Linked DNA regions of Homo sapiens: region 1 is linked to region 2. The links come from fine-mapping of genetic effects on gene expression. Tissue or cell type: atrial appendage. Region 2 holds a variant in brackets; the other region holds the start of a gene. All regions are shown on one strand. Distances are between the middles of the regions. Region 1 holds the start of LGR5 (leucine rich repeat containing G protein-coupled receptor 5). Region 2 overlaps LGR5 (leucine rich repeat containing G protein-coupled receptor 5).

What was found.
Region 1: LGR5 starts here. The variant in region 2 is fine-mapped to the expression of LGR5 in atrial appendage (GTEx, PIP above 0.99).

Annotation. Positions count from the first base shown.
Region 1 is chr12:71,438,267-71,441,281 of GRCh38, reverse strand. LGR5 (leucine rich repeat containing G protein-coupled receptor 5) reads right to left here and starts at 1,484. Exons shown (of 18, transcript NM_003667.4): 1 at 990-1,484. The coding sequence starts at 1,201. The region is part of intron 2 of LOC124902962 (a long non-coding RNA gene); the gene reads left to right.
Region 2 is chr12:71,473,684-71,476,183 of GRCh38, reverse strand. All of the region lies in intron 1 of LGR5 (leucine rich repeat containing G protein-coupled receptor 5), which reads right to left. Among named protein-coding and RNA genes, the nearest start is that of LGR5, 35 kb to the right of the region's middle. The variant C/T (reference allele first, on the strand shown) is at 1,152.

The sequences.
Region 1 (3,015 bases), 35 kb after region 2:
AGTCGCCTTGGTCTCCGAGAATAGGGTTCCTCCTGGGTCACCGCGTTCACCCAACTACCTGTTACCTTCGGGCCTGGGTTTTCCACAGAAAAAATTACGCAATGAGCCGCCGCCTCAGGGCTTTGGAAGTTGCAGTGGGGAGAGAAGGGGTGGGAGAATCCCCCAGGGATGATAGAGAGCTTCAGGTCTCCCTTTGGGTGTCGGTGCCGCTGTTTACCAGCCCAACAGCCTTCAGCCCACTTCCCCTTTCCTCCCCGGGGGAAGAGATGGTTAAAGATTACACAGCGGCCGCGGGCACTTCAAAGGGCGGCGCGGGCAGCCAAAGGTAAAGATAACGTTCTGGCAGCTCTAATCGGGGTTTGTGGTTGCCACATTTTAATCACGCCGTTAAAAAAGAAAGAAAATAAAAAGAAAGGAGGGAGGGAAGGAAGGAAGAAGGGAGGAAGGAAGGGAGGAAAAGAGGAAAAAACCCCAAAAAGGTTACATCACGTCACAGTGCAAGGGATGCAGACTAAAAACCCTTTGGAGCTGGGCAAGTTGTTTCTCCTTTGGGGAAACTTTCTACAGACCATCTTTTCGTGGAATGCGACTAGACGCAGAGAGGCGGTTGGGGCGGGGACCAGATGGCAGCCTGCCTTTGGGTACCAGGCTCTGGGTCACAAATGTCCACTCCGCACGCAAATGCCTGCATTTGCAGGAATTCGCCCTGCGATGTTTCTAGCGCTGGACTGGGAAGCTGCGGCGCAGCAGCGCTTTCCCGGGTTGCACTCGAAGCCATTTCTCTGCGGGTCCAGAAAGTGCCGGCACGCTACTCCCCGAGACACGTGCATTTCTCTGGGGGCCCTAACAGGCCTGGCCAGGATGCCCTTGACAAACTCGCCCCCCTCCCCCACGAGCAGGCGGGCGCCGAGGAGCCTCCAGCCTCGCCTTGGACGAACCTTCCTTCCCCTCTTAGTCTCTCTCCCGGAGTGACGTGGGGAAGTACTTACAGGTAGGAGGTGAAGACGCTGAGGTTGGAAGGCAGCTCCGAGAGCCCCAGGTCGGAGCAGTCCACCCTGAGCAACATCCTGCCGTCGGGCTCGCAATGACAGTGTGTGGGGCAGCCCCTCAGCAACACACCAGACCTGGGAGAGCTGCCCCCGGTCGCCAGCTGCAGCAGCACAGGCAAGGACAGGAGCACACCGAGCCGGGAGGTGTCCATGGTGCCCGAAGTAGGGGGCCACGAGCCGGACGCGGGCGGAGAGCAGCACCGGACTGCTACGGGCCGTGGCGCGCCGGGCGCCGCTCCGTGGGCTTCTGCAACTCAGCGGGCGTCTGCAGCGCCAGACGCCGCGTTCCTGACCCCACGGCGTGGGCGGCGAGGAGAAGCGCGGCGGGGACAGAGGTGCCGGTTGCCGCCACGCCGGCCTTCGGAGCAGCCCTGGCTGCAGCGGCGACAGTGGCGGTGCGCCTTGCTGCTGCTCGCGGCCTGAGCGGTGTGGAGCAGCATCTCTGCTTGCACGCTCGTTTTTTAAAGCGCTCCAGCCCGAATTGCGCGCCCAGTGACGTCAGCGCAGCCTGGCTTCCCAGGCACCCCCCGCCCGGCCCCACTTTCCCTCCACTTGTCCCCTCCCTCCTTTCCCAAGTCCTGGGCTGGGAGGCAGCAGGCAGCAGGCAGCGCGCGGTACTGGCGAGTTCTCGGCGCTCCCACTGAGCCTCCGCCTGGAAGATTCAGTGCTCAACGCCGCGCGCCGGAATAGGGGACCCCCCCACCCTTACCCCTTCATGCGTGCTGGAGACCCAGATCTAAGAGTCGAGAGGGACCTGCTTCGGAGAGACCTAAACAGACGCACAAGGACTGGAGGATGCGGCACGTTTCCTCCGAGCCCGCTTCAAATAATGGATGAGATACTTGAAGTGATTAAACAGAATAAAACAAAACAAAAACACAAAAACTAAAATCCTATGCAGAGAAATAGTTACGTTATCAGGGTAAGGAGGCAGGCGTCCCCGGCGAATGATAGGTGGCCTTTTTGATCCTTACGTCTGCCGCACTGTCTGGCTCGCTTTTGCCCTAAAATCAAAGCTCTAGGCTAATCGCTAAACAAATACAGCTCCTGAGCGAGCACTCCACTGCTGCCTTCCTATCTCTTGCGGGGTGAGGAAGTCGAAGTGACTCATTTGTTTTTTAAAAGTGGTTTAGAATACCCTAGAAGTCACTTTTAGTAAATCGATGCCAGAGTGACAGATGGCTGTTTGCTAACTTCCAGGGACTTTTCATCTTAAGTGTCCCAGCGCTCTCTGAACTGAGAGCAGTCCCACCTATGTGAGTGACACTGGGCTCTGAGAACCGCTGCAGAGCGCCAGGGGGAAAATGCATGCTCTTGCTTCAAAAAGTGTCCTATAGTGAATCTGCAGGAAAAAGGAGGAAAAGGATTCAGGGCTTTCTTGGAGAGAAGCCCTCGTTGAGGTACAAATAGCCCTCGCCAGACCTGAGTGAGCTGCTGAAAGAGGTGGTATTCCAAGCCTGCCACACCAACTCACAAAAATGCAGTTTTCACTCTGGGGCACAATGCCTCACAGCATCATGAAGGCAGGATACCCTGTTGATTTTCCAAGTCCTTTTTAATCTTCCTGCATTTAGACTGCCCAACAAAATTTCCCAAATAAACGTCTAAATTTTAGAGTTGGGAAGAGCTGTTTCTCTGTGCAGTGTATGTGCCTTCCTTCATGTCCAAACCTCGCTGTTTGTTCACCTAAAATATATAATTTCTTGACCACAATCTGTAGTCTGAACATCTTCCTTTCTTGGGTGAAAAAACAAACAACAAACAAAGCACTTGACAGTGCTAGTGCCACTGAAAATTGTGAGTTAACTCCGGTTTCCGCACAATCAGTACAGAGAGCCCGCGTCTCTGGACACCCTTTTCCTTCACTTTTCCCTATGTATACCACATTCACTGCTACTCTGTGCTTATTCTCACATTATTCTTGCTTCCCTTAGCCATTCTTTCCACATTTAAAGAATGCCTACCT
Region 2 (2,500 bases):
GTATTCAGACGAAGTGGTTGGTGTTCCAGCGAACCACTGGAACTGGTGGGTTTGGGTGAATTTACTGTCCACCTATTAATCTGGCTGGCTGGATAGTGTCCTAATATTCCCTCATATGTGAGCCCCCATTTAACCTTCTGCTCAAAGAGGACAACCTTCCTTAACAGAGGAACCCTGCGTGTCAATCCCCAACATATCAGTGATTTTTCTATCCTGTTAGAATCTCCAAGCTAACTCTCAAGGTTCGTCCAAGGAGGAAAGGATGTATAGAATAAAGATCTTCATTTTCTAAGTAAGATAAAAATGGTAAAAGTTTCATTGTCCTCTCAGATTTAATATAAAATCTATATTCCCATAAAAATCTCTCCTAGATCTTAGCTGATTAGGAATTAATCTCTTCTTCCACTAAACTCTCTGAGAATTTTCTTTTTACTTATATTAAACTGTTAATCACAACCTTTCTTTTGTTAGGGTTCCAAGAGGCCCTGACACTTAAACTGAGTCTTGAAAAGAAATATCAGCTATGATAAGGGGGGGATGAGTGAGAGAAGGAAAAGCATTTCTGGTAGGAGAACAGCATGTACAAGAGCGTCGCAGCATAAGAGAGCAGGCTGTTCTGCAGAAACTACAATAGATTGGCATAGTTGAATGGAAGTGCTTGTGTTGCAACACGACCCATTAGGAGGCCTGAAAAGCATCAACAGCCAAGGCCAGATCAAGCTGGCCTCATATGTCACGTTGAGAAGTTCAGACTATCCTGGAGGCTCTGGGAGCCACTCTAGGACTTTAAGCAGGGAAATGACATCATCTTTGGATTTAGTAAATCTCTTGGGTGGCAGTTCTTTTTCTTTTGTTTTAAATTAAAGACGTATAAAGGGAACAGTGTTTTAATTTTGGAGATTGTATAGTATATTTTAGTTTATTTTCCTTCTTTCTTGATAGCCAACTTTTTTTTGTCATTTTTGTGTCATTATTCCATATTAATTTTGAATTAGATGCACTAACAGGCTTAAATTAGAACAATTCTTCACACGTTCTTTCATTTGTGGTCAAGCAATCTTCCTAGATGCATTTTTGGGAGACTTACATGTCTGCTAGCCTCAGATTGGCTGAGAATCTTCTTGAACCCTACTTGCAATTCCAATTAGTCA[C/T]AGATCAAAACATTAATGTGGACAGATTAAAGCAGAAGCCCTCATGCTTTATTTCCTAATATCATCTGTCTTTGCTTTGAAAAGCACACCAACGGAATCTTCTGCATCTGTACACCCCAAAGGCAATTTAATCTCCCTTGGCCAACATTAAAGCTTTAAAGTAACTCTATGCTATGATGTATTTTTCCTCCTTTTCCAAGTTCAAGAATTACATAATTCACTTTTTATCAGACTCATTCTAGAAGACGATCAGTTGCTACATTGTTTATAGTTTTGAACATTATCTAAAAGAAGCCCTACAAGCTTAAAATTAAGTAAATTGATTTTTCCACATACTGTCATGTGAAATTGAATACAGGCAAGGACATAATCTAGAGAGTATTAACATATGTTGCTTTGTAATATATTTACTAATGGTAGTATTTTAAAAGATTGGGGAACTAAACCATCCGTTTATAAACTTTAAATACCAAAATAACTTCTCCCCACTTACTGGGTCGATTTTAAAATAGATTTTTCTGTAGGTGTGGGTCTCCCACCTAAACTGAAGCTTATCCTTTAAAGTGCCAAGACAGTTTCAATGTTAAAAATTGGTATAGGAATATTTTAGTAATTTATTCTATACTTTACTGTCTTAAAAAGAATTTTAATTTTTCTTATCATTCATGGTCACCATCTTATAAACACCAGTACCTGCTCGGGAGCAACTTTTGAAACTAATGAGTGAAAACTGTGGGATTCCTTGTTAACACACCAAATGGTGATAGATAGCTTTGCTTTATTTTTTGGTTCTAATTTCTGAATTGTTTATCCTTTGCTGTTTTTTGGGTTATTAGTTGATAAGTCCTGCAGTTATCAATGAAAAGTGAAAGGGATTTTTTTTTTTGTATTTAGTTTTTATAGAATTGAAATATATATTCAACGTACATTCAAAAGCCAAATAAGAAAGCTTATCTGGATTATATGTAAAAGAAAACAAATAGGATGTGAAAGAGATCCCAGGGCTCATTTTTGAAGAGATTTTAGTGCATGAGATTTGTACAGTAATATTCGACACTCAGCATCCTTTTTCAACTCTTGGATTTGTTTTAAGAGGCTGAAGTTGCAAGAAGACTGACCTCTGGGAAAGCGAGGTGTTGTTACTTAGCTACTTGGTAGGATGGTAAACTGACTCTAAATTTTTAATGATTGCAAATGAATACAGAGTGTATTACTTCAGGATCTAAGGATATATAGATAATTGTTCTGTAATTTCATTTGTTTTATATATAATAATAAAACACTAGTAATCTGGTAAATTGAATAATCATATTCTTAAAATTAAGGATGACTTAAATTATCACTGCAAA